Regions from separate parts of the Homo sapiens genome. Here region 2 is linked to region 1. The links come from fine-mapping of genetic effects on gene expression. A gene starts in region 1. The other region holds a variant in brackets. All regions are shown on one strand. Distances are from middle to middle.

Region 1 (16,179 bases):
GATCCTCAGTCACCGAGACAGAGGCTGATGGGAAAATCACTCCGTGGCCAGATTCCAGAGATCTAGACCTCTCTGATTGCTGATGAGGCCTCTTCCCAATTTAAACAACTCAAGTCAGAAATCAGTTCACTCCCTGGAAGAGAGAGAGGGGTCTTGGCACTCTCTTCTTACTTAAACCAGTCCCAGACACCTAGACACGGACCCCTTTTTGCTGATGAGTGTTGGGACTGACTCCTGGAAGACAGCCTGGCCTTGCCCACCTGCACACAGTCTGTTGGATAGGTAGGGCCACGAGGAGTAGCCAGGTAGGCGAGACACAAAAGGCCTGGGACAGGGTCAGTACAAGTCAGGTCAGGCTTCATGCCTGCATCCTCCAGAGACCACAGGAGCCAAAGCGAGCCTCCAGGCCCAGCAATGAGGGACTTGGGAGAAATCTGAGAAGAATGGGTTGTTCTCTTGGGAAGTCAGGGTATCAGATGGGATGGACATCCAGGTCTTCTCTCTGCCTAATTGTCAAGGCCTCCTTGGCTCTGGAGCTATGAAAGGCCCCACTTTCAAGTCACCCTTGCCACTGAGGACCGAGGACTATGCTATGATGAGGATTAAGGTGTTGACTTGCCTCTTTCAGAGATAAATGACAAGCCTTCAGTTTGGGGCATCCTGTTGTTTGGGCGAGGACCCTCTCTGATATTCTGATAATCCCCACCTGTAACCTCAGGTCCCTGGAAATACAGAGGAGGCTGGGATCGCCTGAGACACAAAAATCTTTGGAGAATTTTCTTGACCCTCTGAAGTCCTTCCAGCAGCAGTCCTGGTGGTGCTGCTGGAAGCAGGCAATGTCCTAGTCTAACCTAACTCGAAGAAAAAAAGGAAGATATTCACAAAGATTGTATAAATCTCCAAACTGTTCCCCTATCTGCCCCCAATTCAGCTCCCTTGCCTCCTCCACACCCCTATTACATATAATAAGCAGAGCAAGTGGGAGGAGGGGAAATGTCCTTCCTATATGCCAGGTATGGGGCTGACATTTCAGTCTATTGACCCCAGCTAGAATATAGCTCCATGATTTTAAAGATCTCAGGGGCCAGGCATGGTAGCTCATGCCTGTAATCCCAGCACTTTGGGAGGCCAAGGCAGGTGGATCACCTGAGGTCAGGAGTTTGAGACCAGCCTGACCAATATGGTGAAACCCTGTCTCTACTAAAAATACAAAAATTAGCAGGGCATGGTGGCAGGCACCTGTAGTCCCAGCTACTCGGGAGGCTGAGACAGGAGAATTGCTTGAACCCTGGAGGCAGAGGTTGCAGTGAGCCGAGATTGCACCACTGCACTCCAGCCTGGGTGACAGAGCAAGACTGTCTCAAAAAAATAAAATAAAATAGATCCCAGGGTACTCATTTTTCATATGAGGGAGGCTGGGTTCCTCCCAGAGGAGCCTAAAACAGCCAACAAGAGAAATTGTTGGCGGCAGGAAGATTGCAGAGGAATTCTAATGCAATTATTTGGGACCTCAAATGGAATAAAATGAAAGATATTGGTTAAACATGTCTTCGTTTAATACTTTCAAGACAAAATATCCACTAGCTATTCACTTATTCATTCATCTCATAAACATGAGCCAGGCTCTGTGCAGGGTCCTGAGTACCCAGCCATAAATGAGACTGTGCCCCTGTCTCATGGGGCTTACAGTCTATATCCTGCTTGCAAGACAGCCAATAAGTCAATAAAGAAGATAATTACAGGCAGTACAACAAAGGAAATATGCAGGTTCATGTCATGTAATAGGGATTAATTGAGTTAACTCAATAAACGGTAGGATAGACCTACCATGTGCCGGCTCACTTTTATTGAGCCTTTACTATGTGCCAGGCAGGGGGCTAAGTGTTTTTAAATGCCTTATTTCACTTCATGTTTCCCAACAACCTAATAAGAAGGTCTTAGTTATCTTCATTTTACAGATGTGGCAACCTCAAAGATGCAAAGTCACTTGTCTAAGGTCACCCTGCTAAGTACCAGAGCTGAGGTCTCCAACCTAGTTCTGTTTGACTTCAAAGCCTGCCCTCTTAACCACTAACCTTTTGTCCTAGTTCAGTCAAATTCTGCTTGATTATTGCTCATTAGGGATAATATTAGCTATCTGTAGCATCAGATTGCTGCAAAGTTAACTCATCGTAGATTCTCAATATACTCCATTTTATTAAATGGCCCCGTATTAATCTCCTGTAATAAATTTCACAAATCCAGTGGCTTATCAACAGAAATTTACTGTCTCATAATTCTGGAGGCCAGAAGTCAAAATCAAGATGTGGTAGGGCCCTGCTCCCTCCAAAAGTTTAAGGGGAGAATTATTCCTTGACTCTTTCAACTTCTGGCAGTCCCTGTCATTCCTTGGCTTGTGGAAACATCACTCCTACCTCTGACTCTGTCTTCATATGGCATTTCCTCTGTGTCTCTTGGTGTCTTTTTTTTTTTTTTTTTTTTTTTTGAGACGGAATCTCATTCTGTTGTCCAGGCAGGAGTGCAGTGACATGATCTTGGCTCACTGCAACCTCCACCTCTCAGGTTCAAGTGATTCTCCTGCCTCAGCCTCCCAAATAGCTGGGACTACAGGCACCCGCCACCACACTCAGCTAATTTTTGTATTTTTAGTAGAGATGGGGTTTCACCATCTTGCCCAGGCTGGTCTTGAACTCCTGACCTCAAGTGATCCGCCCACCTTGGCCTCCTAAATTGCTGGGATTACAGACGTGAGCCACCATACCCGGCCTGGTGTCTTTTTTAAAGAATATCAGTCACTGGATTTGGGCCCACCCTAATCCTAATAGTATGACTTCATCTTAATTTAACCAATTATATCTGTAGAGACCCTGTTTCCAAATAAGGTCACATTCACAGATTCCAGGTGGACAAGAAGTTTAGGCGGACACTATTCAACTCAGTACAGACCCAGGAACAAAGTCCACCCACTGGGCTGTGTTGAGTGGCAGTCACTAGTTTATCCTCCCTCAACAAGATGAGCTCCAGGTTGACCTCTGCATCCCCAGTGCTCAGTCAGGACCCAGCAGAGCATCTGAAGGGATCTGGTCAATATGTGTGGAACTGAACTGTTTCTGAAAAGCTCTGACGTATGTTTTGGAAAATCAAATCTTGTTTTAATCCAGACACCAATCTTTTTGTAAGGCAAACAAGTAGCATAAATGTTTAAAAGTGAATTTGCATGTTTATATACTGTCATTCCTTAAAGTTGAAGCATGCCTTTCTTTATTCATCGGTGGAATCCTTTCTCATTTTGGCAAAGAAAATGCCCAAGTGCCTGGCACAAACAAGCACTGAGTAAATACTTCTTGAATGAATAAAACTAGATTCTAAAAATCATTTGATCAAACGCAACTCCACACTTTCTACTTCTCTTCTTTTAGAACCACACTGTATTTCTGCTTTTTTTTTTTTTTTTTTTTTTTTTGACATAGAATCTCACTCTGTCACCCAGGTTGGAGTGCAGTGGCATGCAATCTTGGCTCACTGCAACCTCTGCCTCCTGGGTTCAAGCAGTTCTCCTGCCTTAGCCTCCCATGTAGCTGGGATTACAGGTACCCGCCACCATGCCCAGCTAATTTTTGTATTGTTAGTAGAGATGGAATTTCACCATATTGGCCAGGCTGGTCTTGAACTCCTGACTTCAAGTGATCCACCCACCTTAGCCTCCCAAAGTGCTAGGATTACAGGTGTGAGCCACCACTCCCAGCCCCTATGTCTGCTTTAAGTGGAGAAGCAGAGCTTATGAGGGAGGAGAACAAGGGTGCAAAAGGGACCTAGATATCACTGAGAACTGCCCTTGTTGTTTGGTTGAGGAAATGGGCCCAGACAGTGGACAAGACTTGCTCAGGGAGACAAACGAGATGGTGTCCAGTGCAACAAACCTAGGTTTCCTAACTTCCAGTTCTGTCCACTCTACATCAGTGCCTCTCACCTGTCCCTGCAGGTTCACATTTTGGTTATGTGGATAAGGAGAAATAAATTGAAGATCACAATGTCCCATTTTATCTTCCCCAAGACAAGCTCTGTAACATTAAAGACCACTATGCAAACCGATTACTAGAAAATGTGTGTGGATGGGTTCGGTTTTTTTCCTAAGGTGTTCATGCTTACTGTTTTGGGCAATATTTCAACATAATCTGGCAGAAAAAGAAACAGAAGATAAAGAAAATAGCTGTAGGCCGGGTGCAGTGGCTCATGCCTGTAATCCCAGCACTTTGGAAGGCTGAGGCTGGCGGATCACTTGAGGTCAGGAGTTCGAGACCAGCCTGGCCAACACGGCGAAACCCCATCTGTATTAAAAATACAAAAATTAGCCAGGCGTGGTGGCGTACCTGTAAACCCAGCTACTCGGGAGGCTGAGGCAGGAGAATGGCTTGAACCCAGGAGGTGGAGGTTGCAGTGAGCTGAGATTGCAGCACTGCATTCCAGCCTGGGCGACAGAGCAAGACTGCATCTCAAAAGAAAAGAAAAGAAAAAAGAAAAGAAAAGAAAAGAAAACAGCTGTGATTCAGCAATAGTCATTTTCTCTCCTTGTCACTGCCAGAGTGAGGAAGTGCTGGGTTCTGTCAACATAGGCTCTGACTTCTCATGAGGTGCAAGAAAGAAGCAGCATGAACAAAGGCATAGATTTTGCACCTGGAGACACGTATTCTAGTCCCACCTCTGACTCAAACTAGCTGCATGATCTTGGGCAGCCCCCCAGCCCTCTCTGGGCTTCAGTTCCCTCCTCGGTACAATGGGAAGGGTAGGGAAGAGGATGGTGCCTAGGATCTTCAAAGTCCCAACTCTGATGTGCTGCCATTCTCTCACTGGCATGTGGGAACTGAGTGTGCTACGTGGAGTCATGAGACTTCTTCTTCCTTTTCTTTTTCTTTTTTTTTTTTTTTTTTTTTGAGACCGAGTCTCACTCTGTCGCCCAGGCTGGAGTGCAGTGGTGCGATCTCGGCTCACTGTAACCTCCACCTCCCGAGTTCAAGCAATTCTCCTGCCTCAGCCTCCTGAGTAGCTGGGATTACAGGCGCACCCCATGCCCGGCTAATTTTTGTATTTTTAGTAGAGATGGGGTTTCACCATGTTGGCCAGGCTGGTCTCAAACTCCCGACCTCAGGTGATCTGCCCACCTCGGCCTCCCAAAGTGCTGGGATTACAGGCGTGAGCCACCTTGTCTGTTCAGAGACTTCTGACTTCCGTATTTCCCTCGCTAATGGCCTCACCTCCCGTTTGAGTATGTGCAGCATGTGCAAATTGCAGAGGAACTGGGGAACTTCCCTGCCAGGCAATCCTGGGTCCTCTTGGCTCTCCACTTCCTCCTTCCTTCCTTCCTTCCTCCTTCCTTCCTTCCTTCCTTCCTTTCTTTCTTCCTTGGTCTGGCTCTGTCGCCCAGGGGCTGGAGTGCAGTGGCGGTATCTCGGTACAAACTAAGCTATTTGAAATGCCTCGGAATTCCCAAAGAAAGCTCAGTAAATACCAGACAGATGAAACGGTCCTGCCCGCTCTCCCTCTTTCAGTACCCAGTTTTCTCTTTCCTCTCCTTTCATAACGTTTCTTCCCATCATCCCTCTACCTCCTTATTTCTGTCAGGGCTGTTAGATACCCTTCCGGTCTGTTATCTCCTCCTCCAGCCTTGTGCTACAGGACAACTCAAAAGCCCCCTATGGCTCCCAAGTGATCACTAAATAAAACTCGTGATCTCACTTCAGCCTACCCCTGCAGGATTGCTGCGGCAAAATGGACTACTCCCAGAGGCGTGATCACGGTTCGGTTCACTGCAGCCCAGACTTCCCGGGCTCAAGCGATCCCGAACCTCCCACCTCAGCCTCTCGAGTAGCTGGGACTCCAGACGTGCACCACTACGCCAGGCTCATTTTGTTTATTTTTTATAGAGACAGGCTAGTCTCCAACTTGTGGGCTCAGAGCGATCCTCCCGCCTCGACTTCCGAAAGTGTTAGGATTACAGGCGTGAGCCACTGCGTCCGGCTCAATGGACTCCTTCTTAAATGTGAGTTCTCCGCACACACTGGGCCTTGCTCACCTCCACGATTTAACCTCGCAGTTAAGTCCCTTTTCAAGGTTTTTATTCGTCCTTCAGCGAAGCGCTGTCAACGCCTCCCTGCGTCTTTCCCTTCTTGAGCACCAGAGGGCGCTCCTCCGACCCGAGGAGGAAGCGACTCGGGCCAACCTGTCCAGGTTGTCCCACCCCTTTTTCCTTCCGGGCCAATCGTTAGTCAGAGTGGGCGGAGCCGCCCGCGGGCACCTGCGCGTTAAGAGTGGGCCGCGTCGCTGAGGGGTAGCGATGCGGGCTCCGGGGATGAGGTCGCGGCCGGCGGGTCCCGCGCTGTTGCTGCTGCTGCTCTTCCTCGGAGCGGCCGAGTCGGTGCGTCGGGCCCAGCCTCCGCGCCGCTACACCCCAGACTGGCCGAGCCTGGATTCTCGGCCGCTGCCGGCCTGGTTCGACGAAGCCAAGTTCGGGGTGTTCATCCACTGGGGCGTGTTCTCGGTGCCCGCCTGGGGCAGCGAGTGGTTCTGGTGGCACTGGCAGGGCGAGGGGCGGCCGCAGTACCAGCGCTTCATGCGCGACAACTACCCGCCCGGCTTCAGCTACGCCGACTTCGGACCGCAGTTCACTGCGCGCTTCTTCCACCCGGAGGAGTGGGCCGACCTCTTCCAGGCCGCGGGCGCCAAGTGAGTGTGGTCCCGGGGAGCGGCGCCCCTTCCCGGCTCGGGCGGCAAACAGGAGGTGGGGCTGGGCGGCCAGCTGGGGCGCGCAGCTGCCGGTCGCCCCCATGACCCCGGGGCCCGCGTGTGGCCTCCTGCGGCCACAGGAGTGAGCCTGGCACACCTGATGAGGAGGAGGAGGTGCGTTTGACTGGGGACTGATAAATGAAGGTTCAGGGAGATGGCAGGCTGGGAAGCCCTGGGTATCTGCACCTGTGCACCGAGAGGGCTGAGTTAGGCCATACCTGATGTCCCTTTCAGATTGACAGCACTATCAGGACTCCAGGGTTTCAAATCAGTGGTGTGGAGCCTGGTTCTAATTCAACTGTGAACCTGGACATGTCACTTCAGCCTCCCTGCAGCCTCTTCTATGGTTGTAGAAAGGGGTTATATAAGGATACAACCCTTTGAGCCCTAATGTCTCTAAGAGGGAAAGAGAGGGGAGTTCTGGTGTGCAGTGTATTTGGGCAACAGTACAGATAGTCATTCGTTTGCTCCTCTCAATCCCTTTTACGTAGGAAGTGTCCAGGAAGGGTCTGACTCTCTCTGAGAACTGTTGGAACTTGGGGGTGGCTGGTTCAGAGAACAGAGTAGAGAGCGCTGGGGTGGGGATAAGGGGAGACCACGACCCATGAAGTTGTCAAGGCAGGGGCTTGTCCTGAAGGAGTGAGCCTTGAGAGCCCTGTATTGACAGATGTTAAGTCAGGGAGTGGTTACTATCAGCTTCTAGAAAGATTCATTCGGCTGCTGGGAGAGAAGTGGGTTGGAGAAGAGTAAAAATGGAGGCGGGGAGGTTTCCCCAGCCCCTGGCTTAGAGCAGTCTTCCATCCTTACCTTGGTTCCTCAGCCATCTTCCGGGTTTTCGTTTCTCTTGAACTTTGAATTCACTTGTACTAAAGAGAAGTTACAACTGGCATTTAGTGTTTGCCATTAAATGTATGGGAGTATAAGACTTGATTAAGCAGAGGAAGTGTTTGTCTCCTAGGGGCCTTAGGGATCCATAACTTACAAGTGAGAAAAATTAAAATCTGGGAGATAACCTCTTTCCATGCCTTTTATTTCATGGATGAGATGACTGGCCCAAAGAGAGGAAGGAATATAATGTCCTAGACTCCAGGTCTCATGACGTCAAGGTTGTTTCCACTGCACCAGGGTCTGCAAACTGGCCAGAGGGATTGGTCCTCTGCCAGTTTTTTAAGGCCCATGAGGTGAGAATGGTTTTTACATTTTTAAAGGGTTGTAAAATGTTTTAAAGAAGAATACACTACAGAGAGGAATGTGCTCCCACAGAGCCTAAAATACTATCTGGCCCTTCAAATCCTGGAGTTCCCTACTCTGGCCAATGATTGAACCATAAAGTGCATTACCTATTTTTGTGCCATAAAAGCAAATTAAATATTGAGTGATTTGGTTGTTATTTCAACACTTGCCTTTTCTCCCAGTTATTGGGTCTTTTGTCACCTCTATAATAAATGAGAGGCAATTTATGTAGGCTTGGTAAACCAAACAGCTTAGTTTTCTAGAAAGTTTTCTATTTTGTTGTTATTGTTGTTTTGAAACAGTTTTGCTCTGTAGCCCAGGCTGGAGTACAGTTGCATGATCTCGGCTCACTGCAACCTCTGTCTCCCAGGCTCAAGTGATTCTTATGCCCCAGCCTCTCAAATACCTGGGACTACAGGCACACACCACCATGCCCGGCTAATTTTTGTATTTTTAGTTGAGATGGGTTTTCGCCTCATTGGCCAGGTTGGTCTTGAACCCCTGACCTCAGGTAATCCGCCCACCTTGGCCTCCCAAAGTGCTGGGATTACAGGTGTGAGCCACCATGCCTGGCCAGCAAATGGCTTAGTTTTCTATTATCTGCCATTTCCAGTAGAGCTCTTTCTCCTTCAGGGCAAAGAATGAAAGAAAGTTAATCGTTCCTACCAGAAGTGTTGAAGAATCAGAGAGCTAAGGTGCACTTCTTTTCCCTTACCCACTCCTTCCTTCCCTCTGGGCCTCCTCCTTTGCTGGGGACTGAGGGTTGGGACTTCCTCAAATCTGCTTCCATTCTTGGAGCAATGCCCAAGGGGAATTGTGACTGCAGCAGCTTCCTGGATATCACTAATATAGTCACTGGTACAAGTACATTTGTTGTGGTCAAGTTCTTTCAGCTATTTAAAAAGCCTCAGGCATGCTGGGCAAGTTCATGCAAGTTCACTGCCCACTTCCTTTGCTCATGTGGTTTTGCTGTCCACAGGTATGTAGTTTTGACGACAAAGCATCACGAAGGCTTCACAAACTGGCCGAGTCCTGTGTCTTGGAACTGGAACTCCAAAGACGTGGGGCCTCATCGGGATTTGGTTGGTGAATTGGGAACAGCTCTCCGGAAGAGGTGAGTGTCCAGGGATGGTTACTCTGTTATCTCTTTGGATCTGGCTGTCAAGAGTTCTGTACCTCCTCTACTTGCGTGTGTTTTCTAGGTTTGCATATAGCAAGTAGCCTGAAGGGCTTTTGGCCTTCTACTCCTGTGTGTTTTCTAGGTTTGCATATAGCAAGTAGCCGGAAGGGCTTCTGGCCTTTGAATTGGCAGTGTTTGATGCTTCACAGTTTTCACGTGACCAAAGGGGACACCGTTACAGAAGTTCATGGCCATGTCTGGTTAGATGAAGGATACCCAACATAGACTACGATGCTACTTGATGTCCTGTTTGAGGAGTAGGCTGAGTGTCTGTATAAATCATAAAGTTTGATTGGAACACAGCCATGCCTATTCATTTATGCACTGTCTGTGACTGCTTTCAAGCTACAATTTGAGAGCTGAGATAGAGACCAAATGGCCTGCAAAACCTAAAACACTGTCTGGATCTTTAAGAGTTCACTGGTCGGGTGCGTTGACTCACACTTGTAATCCCAGGACTTTGGGAGGCAGAGGCAAGCAGATCATGAGGTCAGGAGTTCAAGACCAACCTGACCAATATGGTGAAACCCTGTCTCTACTAAAAATACCAAAATTAGCCGGGCGTGGTGGCGTTTGCCTGTAGTCCCAGCAACTCGGGAGGCTGAGGTAGGAGAATCACTTGAACCCAGGAGGCGGAGGTTGCAGTGAGCCAAGATCGCACCACTGCACTCCAGCGTGGGTGGCAGAGCGAGACTCCGTCTCAAAAAAAAAAAAAAAAGAAAAAAGACAAAAAGAGTTTGCTGACTCCTGTCACCTGCTCAGTTTGTTTCTCAGCACTGTGCTTTGCTTAAAGTCCTGCTGTAAAACTCTGAGATATTGATTAGATATGGACTTCAGGAGTCATGATTTTTACCATCTTTATTTAGTCCCTGGGTCATATGATGAAATACTTCAGTTGTTTTTTATCTGTGTAATTGCTTCTTGCATTATAAGGTTTTTGTAACACTCACCATTCTTAACCCAAAGCAAGCTTTATTAAATATGAAAATAGGTCATCAACCACATTTCATTTTGTGTACGTTAAGAACTATTAGTTTGGCCAGGCGTGGTGACTTACGCCTGTAATCCCAGCACTTTGGGAGGCCGAGGCGGGTGGATCATGAGGTCAGGAGATCAAGACCATCCTGGCTAACACAGTGAAACCCCGTCTCTAGTAAAAATAAAAAATAAATTAGCTGGGTGTGGTGGTGGGCACCTGTAGTCTCAGCTACTTGGGAGGCTGAGGTAGGAGAATGGCGTGAACCCGGGAGGTAGAGCTTGCAGTGAGCCGAGATTGCGCCACTGCACTCCAGCCTGGGCGACAGAGCGAGACTCCATCTCAAAAAAAAAAAAAAAAAGGAAAAAAAGAGAAAGAACTATTAGTAAATCTTAGATAAATAAAACGATAAACCTATATTCATTTCAACTGTGTGGAAAATGTTACTAATGATTATTTCTGAGTAAGAGTACTTTGCATATTTGATTTTCTATTTTCCAGTTTCTTTAAATATGAAATTTTATGATTGACAGGGAAGACATTTTTTAAAAATAAGGCTATATGGTTTTTTGTTTTGTTTTGTTTTGTTTTTGTTTTGAGACAGGGTCTCACTCTGTCGCCTTTGCTAGACTCCAGTGGCACAATCTTAGCTCACTGCAATCTCTACCTCCTGGGCTCAAGCCATCCTCCCACTTTAGCCTCCCAAGTAGCTGGGACTACAGGCTCGCACCACCACACTCAGCTAATTTTTACAGTTTTTGTGGAGACAAGGTCTCACTATGTTGCCCAGGCTGGTCTCAAACTCATGGACTCAAGGGATCCTCCCACCTCAGCCTCCCAAAGTGCTGGGATTACAGGCATGAGCCACTGCGCCCAGCAGGACTATACTCTGTTGGGATAATTGACTTAAAAGATAAAAGATGGTTTAAATAATATTTTGGTGTTAAGATATTTATGTATAAAAGGTAGTTATGTGTTTAATCAAAAACACAGTAAACCTCATTTTGCTTAAGTGAATAGTGAATAATTTAAGGAAATGGTTTTGGATCCCATTCCTCTCTATATGCTCTTATGAGTGAGTGCCACTGAAATGAAAAAATGCTAGAACTGATTTTCCTTAAAATAAATTATTTGTTCTATGCTTAATGACAGTTGCTGTTCTGTTTTTCTGTTTAAGGAACATCCGCTATGGACTATACCACTCACTCTTAGAGTGGTTCCATCCACTCTATCTACTTGATAAGAAAAATGGCTTCAAAACACAGCATTTTGTCAGTGCAAAAACAATGCCAGAGCTGTACGACCTTGTTAACAGGTAAGACACTGAAATATTTTGGCCCTATGACTTTTATCAATGAAATCAGAGCTTCCTATAGGGTACCATTAAAGTGGAGGAGGGATAGGTATGAAAAAAACCTAAAAGACATCAAAATAATAAAAAGTGGTGGTTGTATTAAGACAAAATATGTTCTTTCCTCCTGCCTTTCAGAACTTCTGTCATGTGGCCATATTGCCTTCTACATTGAAACAATCACACAAAACCCAGGATGGCAGAAAGTCAAAATTTTAGTTCCCTTCTTACATGCCGTTTTCCCTATGTCAGGACCCTGGAGAGGGGGTGGTTTGGCATCGGGCAGATTTGTGTTTGAATTCTGGCTCCTGTTACTTACATGCCTTAAACAGAACACTCTCCTGAGCTTGATTCTCACTCTGTAAAGTGGGGATAATAATGCCTTCTTTGTAGGGCTCAGAATAGTATGTGAAATGTATCTGTCACGGTGCCTGGTACAAAGTAAGGCTGTTGTTATTACCATTATTCTTTAAATGATCACTTTCACTTAGGGATTTGTCACTAGTTCTTCACAATGTTTTATCCCCATTTGCCTTTCTCGAGCCTGGGGACTCATAGAGGACGGTAGACCCTTAAAGCTTCAGAGGCAGCTGCCTGGACCCTCACTTTAGAGCAAAGGAAAATCACCTTTAGCCAGGCGCAGTGGCTTACGCCTGTAATCCCAGCATTTTGGGAGGCCGAGGCAGGCAGATCACTTGAAGTCAGGAGTTCGAGACCAGCCTGGCCAACACGGTGAAATCTCGTCTCTACTAAAAAATACAAAAATTGGCCAGGCATGCTGGTGCATACCTGTAGTCCCAGCTACTCGGGAGGCTGAGGCAGGAGAATCTCTTGAACCAGGGAGGCAGTTGCAGTGAGCCGAGATCCTGCTACTGTACTTCAGCCTGGGCTACAGAGGAAAACTTTGTCTCAAGAAAAGAAAAATTACCTTGTATTCAGATTCTATCCAGATGACTTCTCTTAAGAAAATAGTAACAATTGTAAGAGACCATCAGAGACATGGACAGATTTAGAATTACTGAATCTTAGATCCCCACTCTTTTATCGTACTTGGCTATGTTGCCTTGAACAAACTACTTATCTTTCGAGATCTTGGTTTCTCTATCTGTGAAATGGGATAATAGTATATCCTAGAATCATGAGAACTAATGAGGTAATGAGTTTAAATTGCCTAGTACAATTTCTTATACACAGTAAATCACAGACCATCTGTTATATCTTGCCACTTAGTGATCTTCCTAGAGTTTACCTGCCTAATTATGGAGTACAGTGGACAAATGGGCAGATTTGTATTTGAGTTCCACCTCCTGTTACTTACAAGCCTTGTCACCTGAAACAAATTGCCCTACTGAGCATCAAAGTCTTGCTGCTCAAATGAGAATAATAATGCTTACCATATAGGTATATACATATGTATTTATGTATATACACACAACATACATGCCTTATAGGGCTCAGAGTAATAATATGCTAGAGTACAAATGGGGCTCCAGTGGATTCCATAAGTCCTTTACAGTACAGACTTTGGTAATTATCCACAAAAATGCATTTTATGAATAGTTCCAACTCTTAAAACATCTTCAAAGCAAATCTTAGTCTTATAGTCCTGAAGCACCATTTTGTTTCCTTTGCTTCCTTGAAACACCATTCTTTTTTTTTTTATTATACTTTAAGTTTTAGGATACATGTGTACAATGTGCAGGTTAATTACATATGTATACATGTGCCATGCTGGTGTGCTGCACCCATTCTTTTTTTTTTTTTTTTTTTTTTTTGAGACGGAGTCTCGCTCCGTCGCCCAGGCTGGAGTACAGTGGCGCAATCTCGGCTCACTGCAAGCTCCGCCTCCCGGGTTCACGCCATTCTCCTGCCTCAGCCTCCCAAGTAGCTGGGACTACAGGCGCCCGCCACCATGCCCGGCTAATTTTTTGTATTTTTAGTAGAGATGGGGTTTCACGGTGTTAGCTAGGATGGTCTCGATCTCCCGACCTCGTGATCCGCCCGCCTCGGCCTCCCAAAGTGCTGGGATTACAGGTGTGAGCCACTGTGCCCGGCCAGCTGCACCCATTCTTAATTGGAATTAGTTGCTGAAAGGAAACCAAATTGTTTGTATGCTGATTACACCTCCATTTCCTAAAAGGCATAAAGAAAAAAGATTAGGGCAGGCACAGTGGCTCATGCCTGAAATCCCAGCACTTTGCGAAGCCGAGGCAGGTGGATCACTTGCTGCCAAGAGTTCAAGACCAGCCTGGCCAAGATGGCAAAACACTGTCTGTACTGAAAATATGAAAATTAGTCAGGCATGGTGGTGCACACCTGTAATCCCAGCTACTTGGGTGGCTGAAGTGCAAGAATCACTTGAATCCAGCAGGTGAAGGTTGCAGTGAGCCGAGATCACAGCACTGCACTCCAGCCTGGGAGACAAAGCAAAACAGTCTCAAAAAAAAAAAGGAAGAAAGGAAAAGATCAGGAGGAAATATACCAAAATGCTGTGTGTTTTTTTTTTTTTTTTTTGAGACGGAGTTTCACTCCGTCGCCCAGGCTGGAGTGCAGTGGCGCAATCTCGGCTCACTGCAAGCTCCGCCTCCCAGGTTCACGCCATTCTCCTGCCTCAGCCTCCCGAGTAGCTGGGAATACAGGCGCCCACCACCACACCTGGCTAATTTTTTTGTATTTTTAGTAGAGACGGGGTTTCACCGTGTTACCCAGGATGGTCTCGATCTCCTGACCTCGTGATCCGCCCATCTCGGCCTCCCAAAGTGCTAGGATTACAGGTGTGAGCCACTGTGCCCAGCCTGCTGTGTTTGTTTTAAATGGTGGTTTTATTAGCAAACTGGTTTTATTAGCAAATGTTTTCAGTTTTCCACATCCTCTGCACTGTGATAATTTTTATGCCACATACTTTCAAAATGAAGGAAAATTAATTTTAAAATATTTGTTGCAAAAATCAGTCCACAAGTCAAATGCAGTGATGTGCACCTGTAGTCCCAACTACTCAGGAGGCTTAGGCAAGAGGATCGCTTGAGCCCAGGAATTCGAGACTATAGTGCATTGTGATCATACATGTTGATAGCTGCTGGACTCAAGCTTAGGCAACATAGCGAAACCCCATCTCTAAAAAAAAAAATGGTCCATAAGATTTTACTGTGAACATGTTCAGATAATAAGCTCTGTCCTGATCACATGTCTTCCAGCTATAAACCTGATCTGATCTGGTCTGATGGGGAGTGGGAATGTCCTGATACTTACTGGAACTCCACAAATTTTCTTTCATGGCTCTACAATGACAGCCCTGTCAAGGTATGTGATTATATGACTTCTTATTTATCTCCTATGAAGAAAGAAAGTGCAAGGAGCCAAACTCTGGAGTAGACAACCACAGCAGCAGCAATAATAAACAGGAATATCAACATGGGGGCAGTAGGGACTGGGACACTTAATGGATGTTAAAGGTTTCTCCTTTAATCTTCCCTGGCTCCCTTAGAGTATAAGTTTTCTTCTCCTTTAGTGTTGTTTTTTTTTTTTTTTAATTGAGACAGAGGCTCACTCTGTCACCCAGGCTGGAGTACAGTGGTGCGATCTCCGCTCACTGCAACCTCTGTCTCCCGAGTTCAAGTGATTCTCCTGCCTCAGCCTTCCGAGTAGCTGAGATTACAGGGGCCCGCCACCTGGCCGGCTGATTTTTGTGTTTTTAGTAGAGACAGGGTTTCGCCATGTTGGGCAGGCTGCTCTCGAACCCCTGACCTCTGGTGATCCGCTCACCTTGGCCTCCCAAAGTTCTGGGATTACAGGCGTGAGCCACCGCACCCGGCAATCTCCTTTAGTTCTTAACTTTGACAATATAGGTTTAAACAGTGGTAAATTTACATAGTAGACTAAAAATAGTAATTACAATTCCCAGACCACTACAGAAAAAATAAACTCTATTAAGCAAACAAATGTTATAAATGAGAAAACCACCAAAAAGATATTAAAACATATAATAAAATACAAAGAAAACATATAAAAGACATACAGGCCAAGCATAGCAGCTCATGCCTGTAATCCCAGCACTTTGGGAGGCCAAGGCAAGCAGATGACTTGAGTCCAGGAGTTCAAGACCAGCCTGGGCAACGTAGTGAGACCTCATCTCTACAAAAAATAAAATTAGCTGGGTGTGGTGGCACGGACCTGTAGTCCCAGCTACTCGGGAGGTAGTCCCAGCTACTCAGGAGGCTGATGTGGGGGGAGGCTGACGTGGGAGGATCACTTGAGCCCAAGAGGTCAAAGCTGTAATGAACCTAGATCACGCCATTGTACTCCAGCCTGCGTGACAGTGAAACCCTGTCTCCAAAAAATAAAAATAAAGAAAACATATAAGATACACAAAACCTACAAAATTAAATGGTAGGAATAAAATGCAGATGCCTACAATCCCACCTACTCTATGTTGATTTTATAGTTTAACTCTCAAGGGACACACTTACTTCCCTTATATCCAAATCCTTGGGGGAATGTTGCCTACCCAGTACGCCTCCCTATAATCAACACTATGAGGCAGTGCATAATGGCTGCCCATTTACAGTTTGTATTTTAGCGTACTTGCAAAGTAGCGGAAACCCTAATCTTCACTGTAGCAAATTTCACGATTGTACATGTTCTAGATTTGTTGTGGATTTA
Region 2 (16,179 bases), 35 kb before region 1:
TGTTTAAGCCTGGGAGATTGAGGCTGCAGTGAGCTATTATTGCCTGGGTAACTGAGCAAGATACTGTTTCAAAAAAAAAAAAAAGAAGGAGAGAGACTTGTCCACAGTCCCATAACTGGTGGTAATGGCAAAGCTGAGACTCAAGTCCAGGTCAATCTGGATCCAGAACCAAGCCATATTGTGGTGGGAATCAAAATAGGAGAACGGGAGTGGAAATGCCTCTAGGTATGGAGATGCAGGGCAGGCTCGGGGACTCATGATCAGGGTTGTCTTTACTGTGTCGCTCGCCAGGCTGCGTTTCAGATGCCATCACATGGACAACCCGAGAACCTGCGCTGGGGAGGAAATTGGAGGGATATCATATGAATATGGCCGGCTTCTCTCCTCCCACCCCAAACTGAGCAGTCCAATCCAGTCTTGTGAGGTGTCTACTCTGTGCCAAGACCCTGAGGCTCTAGCCCTTGGCCCAGGTGACTTCCTGTTTCCATGATGATCTCTGACAGACCTTCCCTGACTGTGCTTAGGCATTATCTTATGTAATCCTCACCTCGGTCCTGTAAAGGCAATTCTCTTTCTCTCCCCAAGCTATAAATGAGGACACTGAAGTCTCGGGAGAGGGCAGAGTGGGAACCCACGCACAGCCAAGGCTCTCGGTCCCCAGCTATGCTGCAGGGACCACCAGAAGAGTAAGATCAGGTCTCAGCCTTCTTCCAGCAGAACCCAGAACAGTGTAAAACTGTTCTCTTTTCCCTCCATCTCCTGGGGAGAGAAAGGATGTACTCAGTCCTCACGCCATGCAGCAAAGACCTCAAATGCCAAGGAGAGAAAATGACAGACAAGGCCAGATTAATGGGGGAGGAACTGCATAGTGGAGTTAGGGCCAAGCAGGGAGGGAAGGATTCCCCAGCAGGCGAGGGAGTGAAGGCTGCTGGGGCCCCATCCAGTCGGGGAGGATGTGGGTGAGCCCATGAGCAGAGGGGACTTCGTGGTTCGGTGTCCGGTGAGCTTCACGGCTTCTCCTCCCCTCCCCCACCTGCTTCCACTGCCCAGAGAGGAGGTCTCTGATCTCCTGCTCATACAGTGAGTCAAAGGCAGCTTTTCCCACTCCCTCACCCCCACCACCCCACCTGTCTCTCAGAGGCTCCCTTGCCTCCCTAGAGGTTGAGGCAACCCCTAAGTTCCTCTTTGAGAGCCACAGCTGCGTTCACAGTGTTGCCTCAGCCCAAATTCATTGAGTTCGTCCTCTGTGTCTCTCCCTGGGTCTGTTTGGGTCCTGGAAAATCTGATGGAGCTGGAAGCTGGGGAATAGAGCCCACTGAGAGCAAGGAAGGAGCCAGAGGGTGCTTCACTGACCTTCTGTAGCCCTCCCTCCCTTCCAATGGGCCCATTTGACAGATGAAGCCACTAAGGCTGAGACACAACAGGCAGAGACAGGAGTCAAACCCAAGTCTGTCTTCCCACTACTTTCTACCAGCTTTTCCCACTAGGGAGGGAGATGTTCCAGAAGGTTCACATCATTAGAAGGTCTTGATGCCTGTTTCCATTTTTTTAAAAATTAGTGAATAATTATTGTAATAGTTAAAAGATTTTTTCTCAATGTGAGATCTTCCTAGGATAAGTGGAAGAATCAAATCTGGCAGGTATAGCCAGGCATCGCTTGAGCCCAGGAATTCAAGGCTGCAGTGAGCCGAGATTGTGCTACTGCACTCTAGCCTGGGTGACAGAGCAAGATCCCTATCTCAAAAATAAAATAAATATTTAAAAAGCGATAGTTGGCCAGGCACGGTGGCTCATGCCTGTAATCCCAGCACTTTGGGAGGCCCAGGTGGGCAGATCATGAGGTCAGGATATCGAGACCATGCTGGCCAACATGGTGAAACCCCGTCTCTACTAAAAATACAAAAATTAGCCGGGCATAGTGGCATGTGCCTGTAATCCCAGCTACTCAGGAGGCTGAGGCAGGAGAATTGCTTGAACCAGAGAGCCGGAGGTTGCAGTGAGCCAAGATCACGCCACTGCAGCCTGGTAACAGAGGGAGACTCCATCTCAAAAAAAAAAAAAAAAAAAAAAAGCAGTAGTTAGTGGTGATAGAACAAACTAGCTCATGACTCACAACCAGGCAATTAATCATTCAGCTACAGCTTTGGCTGATATATGGCTTTACATCGTTTTTGCTCTTAATCTGATATCATTTAATTTATACCCTTACTGAGCCAATGATTAAAGACAGCATAAGAAACTGATATCAAAAATACAAGGAAGCTGGGTACGGTAGCTCACGCCTGTAATCTCAGAACTTTGGGAGGCTGAGGTGGGTGGATCACTTGAGGCCAGGAGTTTGAGACCAGCCTGGCCAACATGGTGAAACCTCATCTCTACTTAAAAAATACAAAAATTAGCCAGGTGTGGTGGCACACGCCTGTAATCCCAGCTACTTGGGAGTCTGAGGCTGGAGAACTGCTTGAACCCGGGCGGCAGAGGTTGCAGTGAGCCGAGATCACGCCACTGCACTTCAGCCCGGGCAACAAAGCAAGACTCCACCTCAAAAAAAAGAAAAGAAAATACAAGGAAATGATGGTGTTAACTCCTCTGCAGATTTGCTTCAAGATTCTTCTTTTTTCTCTTGTTTTTTTTTTTTTTTTTTGAGACAAGGTCTCCCTCTGTCACCAGGCTGGAGCATAGTGGCGCGATCTCGGCTCACTGCAACCTCCACGTCCCAACCTCCACCTCCCAGGTTCAAGCGATTATCCTGCCTCAGCCTCCCATGTAGCTGGGATTACAGGTGCATGCCACACGCCCGGCTAATTTTTTTGTATTTTTAGTAGAGATAGGGTTTCACCATGTTGGCCAGGCTGGTCCCGAATTCCTGACCTCAGGTGATCCGCCCACCTTGCTCTCCTAAAGTGCTGGGATTACAGGAGTGTGCCACCATGCCCGGCCTGCTTCAAGATTCATAAATTACATTTATCTGATCAACTTTCTTATATGGCATATTAGAGAAATCCTACTACTTCACAACATTTCAAAGGTTGGTAAGAAGAGAGAAAGATGTATTCTGTCTTTTCCTGTACTGGGTATAAAAGAGATCTACACCTGCAAGGCATATACAGAGAGGCATGCAAATAGGGGCCTGAGACATATTTTTTCTTTTTTTTTTTTTTGACACAGAGTCTCACTTTGTCACCCAGGCTGGAGTGCAGTGGTGCAATCATGGCTCACTGCAGCCTTGACCTCCTAGATTCAAGTCATCCTCTCATCTGAGTCTGTCAAGTAGCTGAGACTACAGGCACATGCCACCACTCCCAGCTAAATGAAACCTATTTTATCTTATCATATAGCAAACATAAAATTACTTTTAAGAAGTATGAATTGGCCGGGTGCGGTGGCTCACGCCTGTAATCCCAGCACTTTGGGAAGTGCTGAAGCTCAAGGTGGATCACTTGAGCTCAGGAGTTCAAGACCAACGTGGGCAACGTGGCAAAACTCCATCTCTAAAAAAAAAAAAAGAAAGAAAAAAAAGAAAGATAGGAAAACAAAAAAAAAAAGTTAGAGAAAAATTTTAAACAATACACTTATTGTAAATAGTACATTTTATTTAAAATCACTTCCTTTTTCATGGGCCATAGAAAATTATGAAATGGCTCGAGTAGTTTCCACTGGGGTTTGTAAAATTAAGTTTTCTATGTCCCATACATACTGTTTAATCCTCACAACAGTCCTGAGTGGAGGTATTTTCATTATTCCCATTTTACAGACAAGGACAGTGGGGCTCAAGGAGACGACGTAATTTGCACGAGAGAACACAGCTTTAATAAGGGGCAGGAGGTGGGTACAGTGGTGTGGGCCTGGAGTCCCACTGCTAGAGAGTCTGAGGGGGGAAGACAGCTTAAGCCTAGTTCTCCAAAAAACATCAGAGTGGGAGCAGAATCAGAATCACAACTATGACTCAGGCTGCCTCTGTCTACCTATTTCCTCCTTATTCTCAGTTGGTTCCGAGGGTAAGTTCAGGACCAACTGAGAATCTGTGTTCAGAACCAACTGAGAATCTCTTTTACACAGAACAGGAACAGGAACTAGAAATCCAGGCCACCTTGCAAGTTTGGCTCCCGAGGCCTGAGATTGGCTTGATAGAGTGTCCCGTGATCCCGCTAGATCCCAAATCCCAGGCCAGAGATTGCAACATGTGTTCTTTGTTATGGTCCCAGGGACCAAAAGCCAACAGATGCACAAATGCACCTTAATTAATTCTATTAGAGAGAGGTAGAAGGAACTTACAGGAGGATCAGCTCCCCAGATGTCTGGCCTATCCCTGGCTGTTCCTCGTCTCTCCGTGGCCTGAGTCCTCATGCCAGGTTTAATTCATCCATCAGCCTCTGCCCAGCTTGTCCCTTTGTCCCCTCCAGCCCCTTTGCCACCACTCACAGATCTTATCAGCCCCATGAGTCAAGCCTCTCTGCTGATGCTGGTTTCCCCAACTACAGAACAGGAGTGATACTAGTCCCCCATCATGGATTTGTTGTGTAGAATATATAAATTAATATATAAATATATATAATATATAAAGTGCAAAGATGGCTGGGCGCGGTGGCTCATGCCTGTAATCCCAGAACTTTGGGAGGCCAAGGCAGGTGGATCACCTGAGGTCAGGAGTTTGAGACAAGCCTGGCCAACATGGTGAAACCCCATCTCTACTAAAAATACAAAAGCTAGCTGGCGTGGTGTCGGGTACCTGTAATCCCAGCTACTTGGGAAGCTGAGGCAAGAGAATCGATTGAACCCGGGAGGCGGAGGTTGCAGTGAGCCGAGATGCACTACACTCCAGCCTGGGCAACAGGGCCAGACTCATCTCAAAAAAAAAAAAAGAAAGAAAAGAAAAGAAAAGTTAAGTGCAGAGAATAGTGCCTGACACACGGTATACAGTAGGTGCAATTTCAGTATTAGTTGCTACTATTGTCATAATCACCAGAGTGTTTCAAGAGCTGAGCCTCCATGGCTCTCCACATCGCTTCACAAACTCCCCTGTTCTGGGAACCAGCCTGAATTGCAACCTCAACCCCCGACTGATGCAACCCTATAAGCAAACCAGAATCATGGCTGGGGTAGGGGCTCTACCCTTTGGGATCTGGCCAAACCAGGAAGAGGTAGAGTGGCCTGGAGGCAAACCACAGGTGATTCAGAATGTTCACCACGTGGTTAACCCTGTCTTACTCCTGCTTTAGAGAGAAGCCACCATGAAAAGTCCTCATCATCAGGGGACAGACCTCTCTGTTCCCTGGTTATAATGCCTTACTTTGTATGAAAGTTTCCTTTCCTACAGAGAGCACTTCATGGACAGAATGGGTGACTGGCCACTTCCAGGTGTGATTTTAACAATGCTCCTCCCACCCCCAGACAAATGCATACTTCCCGATGGCTGACAGATTTCACAGTAACAGGCTACCCTCAGGGTGAAAGAGATCCACACATGCTTATCAGTCATTTATGCTGTAATATCACAGAGCATCAAATAATTTTCTGTAGTAGACT[T/C]TCTTTGAAAGAGGGAGATAGGCCTTTTAGTTCTTGTTATAAAAATGAAGATTAGCTAGGTGCAGTGGCTCACACTTGTAATCCCAGCACTTGGAAGCAGCACCAGGCCGATCACCTGAGGTCAGGAGTTCGAGACCAGCCTGGCCAACATGGTGAAGCCTTGTCTCTAATAAAAATACAAAAAAATTGGCTGGGCATGGTGGCAGGCGCCTGTAATCCCAAGCTACTCGGGAGGCTGAGCCGGAAGAATCACTTGAACCCGGGAAGCAGAGGTTGTAGTGAGCCGAGATCGCACCACTGCACTCCAGCCTGGGTGACAGAGCGAGACTCCAAAAAAAAAAAAAAAAACAATGAAACGAACAAAAAAACCAGAGTTCTGAGTGACATCACCTGGATCACAAAGGAGCTCCCTAGTGGGGCAAAGCTAAGATTCCTGTCTTCAGGCAGTGTGAACTCTGGAATCTGGTAAAGCAGAAAATCGGGAGCCCAAATGCAATTTTTTAACATTTCAAAGGGCCCCCCAGAAAGATTAGAGAGAAGTCCCCGGGAGAAAGCCGCAGGAGCCAGCTGAGCAACTAGGAGGCAGGCTCCTGTGACAGTTGCAGACCTGGGCACAGGTTTGGGTTCACATCGGGCTCTGCCCTTTTGTGCAACCTCAGACAAGTCACTGCATCTTTGCGCCTCCGTCTCCTTGTCTGCAAAACAGAGATGATGATAATAGGACCACCCTTCCTGACTTACTGTGAGGATTAATTGCATTTTACACAACTAGCTATTGTTAAAGTGAAGCTCCCCACAATCCCATTTTCACCCTTGCATTTATGGCCTGGCAGGTTAGGTTCTGCAAGGCTGTTTCACAGATACTATGAGGAGCACTTTTGATATGTTAACCTAGGCATGCCCTTCTTACTGACGCACGTTAAAAAGAAATGCTTTTTTTTTTTTTTTTGACAAAGCCTGGGGTCTCACTCTGTCACCCAGGCTGGAGTGCAGTGGCACATCACGGCTAGCTGTAGCTTCAACCACCTGGGCTCAAGTGGTCCTCCCACCTCAGCCTCCCAAGTGCCTGGGACCACAGGCATGAACCACTACCCCTGGCTAATTTTTTTTTATTTGTAGAGGCGGGGTCTTCCTATGTTGCCCAGGCTTGTCTTGAACTCCTGGGCCCAACCGCTCCTCCCACCTCAGCCTCCCAAATTGCTGGGATTACAGGTGTGAATCACTGCACCCGGCCTCACTTTGAAAATTAGAAAGCAGGTTACCCTCCTTGAGGATGCTGGCATGTGTCAGAGAGAATACCTCCAACCAATCCATTAAAAAGCAGTTATTGCTGCGGCCAGGCCTGGCCCGGCTGCGCTAGGCTAGGCTCTGGCAGGATCGCAGGGGCGGGGGTGGTAGGGGCACGGGTGGCAGCCCCGCGGGTCGCAGCGCCGCCGCCGCCGCCGCCCATGAATGGTGCTGCCCCTGGCCTGCCATCACCGCCGCGTCGCTCAGCGCCCGACCTCCCTGCTTTTGCTTGCAGAGCCGCTCCCGAGGCCCCGGCGCGGCGCGAGGGCGCGGGGCGGGGGTCCACAGGCTCCGAGGCTGCCCCCGACGCCCCGCCCTCGAGGATGGCGGCGGAGCTCTACGTCCCCGCCAGCGCCGCGGCCGCGGTCCTAGCCCACAGCAACGCCGGCGCCGCCGTGGGCAGGAAGGCCGGGCAGCGCAGCCTGCACCGCGCCCCCGCGCCCGCGCCCGCGCAGCCCACACTTGGCAACAACCACCCGGAGAGCCCCAAATGGCGCGGTCCCCCACGCTGCGCGAGAGGAACGCGCTCATGTTCAACAACGAGCTCGTGGCCGACGTGCACTTTGTCGTGGGACCCCCGGGGGCGACCAGGACGGTGCCCGCCCACAAGTACGTCCTGGCTGTCTGCAGCTCCGTCTTCTATGCCATGTTCTACTGGGACCTGGCGGAAGTCAAATCTGAAATTCACATTCCAGACGTGGAGCCCGCAGCCTTTCTGATCCTATTAAAGTACGTGTACAGTGATGAGATCGATCTGGAAGCGGATACGGTGCTGGCCACTCTGTAGGCTGCTAAGAAGTACATCGTCCCAGCATTGGCAAAAGCCTGCGTCAACTTTCTGGGGACAAGTCTGAAAGCCAAGAACGCCTGCGTCCTGCTGTCCCAGAGCCGGCTGTTTGAGGAGCCCGACCTGACCCAGCGCTGCTGGGAGGTCATCGACGCACAGGCCGAGATGGCCCTGCGGTCCCAAGGCTTCTGTGAGATGGACCGGCAGACGTTGGAGATCATTGTCACTCGGGAGGCCCTCAACACCAGGAGGCGGTGGTCTTCAAGGCCGTCCTGAACTGGGCCAAGGCAGAGTGCAAGAGGCAGGGGCTGCCAGTCACCCCACGAAACAAGAGGCATGTTTTGGGGCGAGCCCTCTATCTGATCCGAATTCCAACCATGACCCTAGAGGAGTTTGCCAACGGCGCTGCCCAGTCAGACATCCAGACATCCTGACTCTGGAGGAGACCCACACCATCTTCCTGTGGTACACGGCCACCAACAAGCCCCGCCTGGACTTCCCCCTGATCAAGAGGAAGGGCCTCACCCCGCAGAGGTGCCACCTATTCCAGTCTTCTGCCTACCGCAGCAACCAATGCCAGTACTGCGGGCGCTGCGACAGCATCCAGTTTGCAGTGGACAGAAGGGTATTTATTGCGGGGCTAGGCCTGTGTGGGTCCAGCTCTGGGAAGGCTGAGTACAGCGTGAAGATTGAGCTCAAGAGGCTTGGGGTAGTTCTGGCTCAGAATCTGACCAAATTCATGTCGGACAGATCCAGTAACACCTTCCCGGTCTGGTTTGAACACCCGGTCCAGGTTGAACAAGACACCTTCTACATGGCCAGTGCTGTTCTGGACGGCAGCAACCTCAGCTACTTTGGGCAGGAGGGGATGACGCAAGTGCAGTGCAGAAAGGTGGCCTTCCAGTTCCAGTGCTCCTCGGACAGCACCAACGGGACTGGGGTCCAGGGTGGGCAGATCCCTGAGCTCATCTTCTATGCCTGAGGTGCCCGGGGAGGCTGCAGCAGGTCGGCGAGTGGATGGAGGGGAAATCAGGACACTAACTGCTTCTTGACACCATGAAAGGCCACACTTAACCTTGTCTCTCTTTGGCATGTAGTCAACTGAAGCTTGATTCTGTGAAGTAGGCACCTTTTCCACACAGCCAGAGCTGGGGGATTGGAGTCTTAGGCATCTCTGGTACACTGGGGTGCACGTCTCAGGTGGAGGAAGATTTAGGGCACAAGACAGGCCCCAGATCCCCTCCCAATGGCACCCATGCCACCTGCTTTGAGGGGTTGCATGTTCCTGCCACCCTCTTGGATACTAAGTGGTTCCAAGCTTAACTGTAGACCTTCCCTTCAAATCTAAAATCGGCAAAAAGTCACTTAAAATAAGGGACTTCTGTAATAAAGGTTGCCTACAATTAAAAAAAGAAAGAGTTACTGAGCAGTGACCATGGGTGAGGCAGGTGCACTTAAGATACGGGAGTGAACAAAACAAATAATAAGCCTTAACTCCCTTGGAGCGACCATTCTAGTGTCCTATTACTCAAATCAGTCTCCCCCAGCATTCGAGGATCAGAGATTTTAAGGACAATTTGGTTGGTAGCTGGAAACGTGGCTCGGTAAAATGGTCCAAGGTGGGAAGGATAAAAATGAGATTAGGGAGGCCAGGCACGGTGGCACATGCCTGTAATCTCAGCACTTTGGGAGGCCAAGGCGGGCGGTTCACCTGAGGTTGGGAGTTCAAGACCAGCCTGATCAACATGGAGAAACCCCATTTCTACTAAAAATACAAACTTGGCCAGGCGTGGTGGCACATGCCTGTAATCCCAGCTACTTGGGAGGCTGAGGCAAGAGAATTGCTTGAACCTGGGAGGCGGAGGTTTCAGTGAGCCGAGATTGCACCATTGCACCCTAGCCTGGGCAACAAGAGTGAAACTGTCTCAAAAAAAAAAAAAAAAAAAAAGAGATCAGGGAAGAGATGGTTGCCCAGAAGTATAAGAGAGACCCCATGCCCCTCCGTCTATAAGCCTCTAGGGGTTCACCTTGCCTGCCGCCTAGACAGAGCCGATTCATCAAGACAGGAGAATTGCAATAGAGAAAGAGTAATTTATGCAGAGCTGGCTGTGCGGGAGACCGGAATTTTATTATTACTCAAATCAGTCTCCACCAGCATTCAAGGATCAGAGTTTTTAAGGACAGTTTGTTTGGTTGCGGGGAGCCAGTGAGCCAGGAGTGCTGATTGGCCAGGGATGAAATCACAGGGGGTCGAAGCTGTCCTCTTGCGCTGAGTCAGTTCCTGGGTGGGGGCCACAAGATCACATGAGCCAGTTTATGGATTTGGGTGGTGCCAGCTGATCCATCAAGTGCAGGGTCTGCAAAGTATCTCAAGCACTGATCGCAGGAGCAGTTTAGGGAGGGTCAGAATCTTGTAGCCTCCAGCTGCATGACTCCTAAACCTTCCTTCCTTTCTTTCTTTCTTTTCTTTCTTTCTTTCCTTTCTTTCTTTCTTTCCTTTCTTTCTCTTTCCTTTCTTTCTCTTTCTTTCTCTTTCTTTCTTTCTCTTTCTTTCTTTCTCTTTCTTTCTTTCTCTCTCTCTCTTTCCTTCCTTCCCTCTTTCTTTCTTTTCTTTCTTTTTTTTCTTTTCTTTCTTTCTTTCTGACAGAGACCCCTCTGTCGCCCAGGCTGGAGTGCAGTGACGCAATCTCAGCTCACTGCACCCTCCACCTTCCAGGTTCAAGTGATTCTTCTGCCTCCCCCTCTCGAGTAGCTGGTATTACAGCATGCACCACCACACCTGGCTAACTTTTGTATTTTTAGTGGAGGCGGAGTTTCAGCATGTTGGCCAGGCTGGTCTTACCTCCTGACCGCAAGTGATCCACCCGCCTCAGCCTCCCAAAGTGCTGGGATTACAGGCGTGAACTACCACACCAGACCCTAAACCATAATTTCTAATCTTGTGCCTAATATTAGTCCTACAAAGGCAATCTAGTCCCCAGCCAAGAAGGAGGTGTACTTTGGGAAAGGGCTGTTATTGTCTTAGTTTTAAACTAAGTTTCTCCCAAAGTTAGTTCAGCCCAGGAATGAACAAGGACACCTTGGAGGTTAGAAGCAAGATGGAGTCAGTTAAGTTAGATCTCTTTCACAGTCTCAGTCATAATTTTGCAAAGGTGGTTTCACATCTAGGCTGCCCAACTTCTGTGGTCAGGGTCTGGCACCAGATATATGAGTCTGAATTCTGACTCTGCCATTTACAAACTTTGTGACCTCGGCAAATCCAGTCTAGCTGAGCCTCTGGTTCCTCATAGATAAGATCGTGAAAATGAGACAGTCTATCTCCAAGGGCAGTTTGGAGGATAAAGGAGACAGCGCATTTCTTTGTGGTAACATTTAAAATCTACTCTTTTAGCAATTTTGATACGTGTATCATAATATCACATTGTATTCCATAAATATATACAATTATTATTTGTCCATCAAAAATAGAATGAAAACATTTAAAAATAATATATAGTACGGGCCAGGTGTGGTGGCTCACGCCTGTTATCCCAGCACTTTGGTAGGTGGAGGTGGTTGGATCACCTGAGGTCAGGAGTTGGAGACCAGCCTGGCCAACATGGTGAAACCCCGTCTCTACTAAAAATACAAAAATTAGCTGGGCATGGTGGTGCACATCTGTAATCCCAGCTACTCAGGAGGCTGAGGCAGGAAAATCACTTGAACCTGGGAGGCGGAGCTTGCAGTGAGCCAAGATCGTGCCACTGCACTCCAGCCTGGGCAGCAGAGTGAGACTTTGTCTCAAAAAAAAAAAAAAAAAAAAAAAAAAAAATTGGCCAGGCGTGGTGGCTCAAGCCTGAATCCCAGCACTTTGGGAGGCTGAGGCAGGCGGATCACAAGGTCAGGGGATCGAGACCATCCTGGTTAACTCGGTGAAACCCCGTCTCTACTAAAAATGCAAAAAATTAGCCGGGCGTGGTGGTGGGCGCCTGTAGTCCCAGCTGCTTGGGAGGCTGAGGCAGGAGAATGGTGTGAACCTGGAAGGCGGAGCTTGCAGTGAGCTGAGATCATACCACTGCACTCCAGCCTGGGCAACAGAACAAGACTCCATCTCAAAAAAAAAAAAAAAAAAAAAAAAGCCGGGCGCGGTGGCTCACGCCTGTAATCCCAGCACTTTGGGAGGCTGAGGCGGGCGGATCACAAGGTCAGGAGATCAAGACCATCCTGGCTAACATGGTGAAACCCTGTGTCTACTAAAAATACAAAAAAATAATAAAAAAATAGCTAGGCATGGTGGCGGGTGCCTGTAGTCCCAGCTACTTGGGAGGCTGAGGCAGGAGAATGGCGTGAACCCAGGAGGCGGAGCTTGCAGTGAGCCAAGATCGCACCACTGCACTCCAGCCTGGGTGACAGAGTGAGACTCCATCTCAAAAACAAACAAAAAATAAAAATAAAAATAAATATATAGTATGGATTTGAACAACAACAGAAAAGGACACAGTGCTTGTAAAAGGCCTTTCACAGTGCCTGCCACAAAGGAAGCACTCAGGAGAGAGTGGCAAATTTATTTTCTTCACATAGTTAAACCACAACAACATATTGCAACAGTTTGCATGCTGAAGCAGAGATAAGAATCCAGCTGCCTTCTCATAAACCAGACAATTAAAGAGATTTGCCACAAAAAGTTATTTTCATTTAAAAATATGTTACTTCAGGGCGGGCGTGGTGGCTCATGCCTGTAATCCCAGCACTTTGGGAGGCTAAGGCGGGTGGATCACAAGGTCAGGAGTTCAAGACCAGCCTGGCCAACATAGTGAAACCCTGTCTCTACTAAAAACACAAAAATTAGCCAGGTGTGGTGGTCCCAGCTACTCAGGAGGCTGAGGTGGAAGAATTGCTTGAAACCGGGAGGCAGAGTTTGCATTGAACCGAGATCGCACCACTGCACTCCAGCTTGGGTGACAGACTGAGACTCGGTCTCAAAAAAAAAAATTCTATTAACATGCAATAGGATTATTAATTTTTTTTAAGTTCTCAGTTTTAGTCTCTAATACAGCAAGTACTAATAGGTGTAACCTACATCAACAAAAGCTATTTATTGCCAAGGTAACTTTTAAGACGGTAAAGGGTCGCTGAGACCACGAAGTTTGAGAACTTCTGCCCCAGGCTTTCGTGATCTGCCTTTCTCTCGCCAGCTCTTTTGCAATCTGACAACACCCCTGTTTTCTGCCCCATGTGATTAATTGCATAACTGCCATGTTTGAAGGACCTTTTGAGATCTCATCAAAAAACCACTCCTGGCAGGGTGCAGTGGCTCACACCTGTAATTCCAGCACTTTGGGAGGCTGAGGCGGGTGGATCACCTGAGGTCAGGAGTTCAAAACCAGCCTGGCCAAAATAGTGAAACCCCATCTCTACTAAAAATAGAAAAATGGTGGCAGGCACCTGTCATCCCAGCTATTTGGGAGGCTGAGGCAGGAAAATTGCTTGAAGCTGGAAGGAGGCAGCTGCAGTGAGCTGAGATCTCGCCACTGTATTCCAGCCTCCAGCCTAGGTGACAGAGCAAGACTCTAGAAGAAAAAAAAAAAAAAACACTCCTGGTGCAGATGGACCTACTGAGAAGGAGGCTATTGTGCCTGAGGTTACACAGCCATCAGTTCCACCTGGGACTGGAACCAGCATCCTTCCTATCTCCTTAATCCAGGGCTCTCGTCATGACGGCAAGCTAGCAGGTGCTCCCTGGCACAATCTCAGCTTCCTGTTCTTTCATCTCTAAAAGTCTTGAGTGGAGACAGGGTCTTCCCCCTCTGCTTTCCTGTCCCACCCTTCCCTCCTGCCTCTCATCTCCCTCTTTGACACTCCTCCTACCAGCCCAAGGGCACAATAGAGATGACATCGTCACTCTCATTGGTTACCAACTAGCAAAGAACTTGAGAAAGTGAGGAGAAAGCTCTAATGTGTTCACATATATAGCATCTATATAAGCTGCCATTCATGGAGGGCTTAGTGTGTGGCAGGCACTGTATTAGGCCTGAGCTAACTCAGTTAGTCTTCATGCCTCCCCACCACTGATGAGACAAGTACTACTTGTTACTCCTGTTTTATGGATGAGGGAACTGAATGAAAGAGATGAATGAAGTGAGTGTCTTTACTTGAGAACAAAAAGCTAATAGTACTTGGCAGAGCCAAGATCGGAACTCAGTGCTATCTGACTCCAAAGCCCAACAGCCTGATGGGTAAATCCTTGTCGGTGAGAAGGTCCAGACTCCACCAGTAAGGTGGGGAAAGGACTAAAGTCTAGGGCCTGGCAGGGTGTGGTGGCTCATGCCCGTAATCTGAGCATGAACTTTGGGAGACCAAGGCGGGAGGATCACTTAAGGCCAGGAGTTTGAGACAAGCCTGGGTGATATAGTGAGACCCCATCTCTACAAAAAGTAAATAATAATAACAATAACTCAAGGCCAGCTAATGGTAGCAATGAAGGCATTACTGAGAAAAAATGGTCAGAAAAATAAAAGTCAAAAAGAGAGAGAAAATAGATGGGATTTGCCCCTGGAAATAAAGACAAAAGATTGTGCGTGGTATCAGGGCCCCTCACCCTATGCAGAGTCATGCATTCCATCCTGCCTCTTTACCAATCTGACCTTGTCATGACACAAGGACTTAAGTCCTGGCCGGGCACGGTGGCTCACGCTGTAATCCCAGCACTTTGGGAGGCCGAGGAGGGCGGATCAAGAGGTCAAGAGATCAAGACCATCCTGGCCAATATGAAACCCCGTCTCCACTAAAAATACAAAAAATTAGTTGAGTGTGGTGGCGCGCACCTGTACTCCCAGCTACTCGGGAGGCTGAGGGAGGAGAATCTCTTGAACCCGGGATTTGGAGGTTGCAGTGAGCTGAGATCACGCCACTGCACTCCAGCCTGGTGATAGAGCGAGACTCTGTCTCAAAAAAAGAGAGAGAAAAAAAAGGACTCAGGTCCTGGCTTTGTCCGCCACTTGCTATGGGTTTTTGGGCAAAGGACTTGCCCCCTCTGAATCTATTTGCTCATGGAATAGTTGAGCAAAACCTGCCTCACATAATAGCCGTGAGCCTTCCCAGGCTGTGTAAATTGTCAAGTATGTTATGAATGTAAGCATTATTAGTCCATTCTCTAAAAGAGAAGTTGCTGAATTATAAAATAATTGAAAGAGGAAGAAGATATTTGGAAAGACTCAACAAAACTGTCCTGTTGGCAGATTTCTTTTCTTTTTTTTTCTGAGTTTTGCTCTGTCACCCAGGCTGGAGCACAGTGGCGTGACCTTGGATCACTGCAACCTCCACCTCCTGGGTTCAAGCGATTCTCCTGCCTCAGCCTCCAAGTAGCTGGGATTATAGGCACACGCCACCATGCCTGGTTAATTTTTTTGTATTTTTAGTAGAGATGGGGTTTTGCCATGTTGGCCAGGCTGGTCTCAAACTCCTGACCTCAGGTGATCCGCCCACCTCAGCCTCCCAAAGTGCTAGGATTAGAGGTGTGAGCCACCATGCCCGGCAGTGTTGCAGATTTCTAATTAGTCAGTTAATTTACCAAGTATTTGTTTGGAGATGGGAGGGGAGAATGCAAAGCAACTGGATGGGATCCTAGTTTTCAAATAAATGGACAAGAGAGTGGATTCCCAATGTCCCCAGCAAGTTTCTTTTTCTTTCTTTCTTTCTTTTTTTTTTTGAGACAAAATTTCACTCTGTTGCCCAGGGTGGAGTGCAGTGGCAGGATCGTGGCTCACTGCAGCCTCTGCTTCCCAGGTTCAAGTGATTCTCCTGCCTGGCTGATTTTTTTATTATTATTATTTATAATACAGATGGGGTTTCACGGTGTTGGCCAGGCTGGTCTCGAACTCCTGACCTCAAGTGCTCCACCATCTTGGCCTCCCAAAGTGCTGGGATTACAGGTGTGAGCCACTGTGCCTGGCCAACTTTCTTTCCCTCCCTTCCTTCCTTCCTTCCTAGCTTCCTTCCTTCCTTGCTTCCTTCCTTCCTTCCTTCCTTTTATTAAAAAAATTTTTTTTTTTTGAGACAGAGTTTCACTTTTGTTGCCCAGGCTGCAGTGCAATGGCATGATCTCAGCTCAGTGCAACCTCCACCTCCCAAGTTCAAGTGATTCTCCTGCCTCAGCCACCCGAGTAGTTAGGATTACAGGCGAGCCACAACGCCCAGTTACTTTTGTATTTTTTACTGTAGAGATGAAGTTTCACCATGTTGGTCAGGCTGGTCTTGAACTCCTGACCTCTGGCGATCCACCCACCTCGGCCTCCCAAAGTATTGGGATTACAGGCATGAGCCACTGTGCCCAGTCCCTTTTTTTTTTTTTAATTTGAGACAGGGTCTGCTCTGTCACTCAGGCTAGAGTGCAGTGGTGTGATCACGGCTCACTGCAGCTTCACTCTCCTGGGCTCCAGCAATCCACCACCTCAGCTTCCTGAGTGGCTGGGACTACAGGCACACAACACCATGCCCAGCTAATTTTTGTATTTTTTGTAGAGATGGAGTTTCATGTTACCCGGGCTGGTCTCTAAGCCCTGGGCTCAAGTGATCTGCCCACCTCAGCCTCCCAAAGTGCT

The links. PIP is the estimated chance that this variant, and not a neighbour inherited with it, causes the effect.
Region 2: its variant is fine-mapped to the expression of FUCA1 in whole blood (TOPMed, PIP 0.95).

Annotation. Positions count from the first base shown.
Region 1 is chr1:23,858,439-23,874,617 of GRCh38, reverse strand. It overlaps FUCA1 (alpha-L-fucosidase 1), which reads left to right and starts at 6,328. Exons shown (of 8, transcript NM_000147.5): 1 at 6,328-6,720; 2 at 8,993-9,127; 3 at 11,347-11,484; 4 at 14,715-14,820. The coding sequence starts at 6,332. It overlaps CNR2 (cannabinoid receptor 2), which reads left to right. Exons shown (of 2, transcript NM_001841.3): 2 at 1-4,103. The coding sequence ends at 83. RefSeq lists a silencer at 6,697-6,916 and an enhancer at 8,167-9,366.
Region 2 is chr1:23,893,874-23,910,052 of GRCh38, reverse strand. The region is part of intron 1 of CNR2 (cannabinoid receptor 2); the gene reads left to right. It also overlaps the pseudogene BTBD6P1. Among named protein-coding and RNA genes, the nearest start is that of CNR2, 11 kb to the left of the region's middle. RefSeq lists enhancers at 4,926-5,005, 12,716-12,845, 12,896-12,955. The variant T/C (reference allele first, on the strand shown) is at 5,527.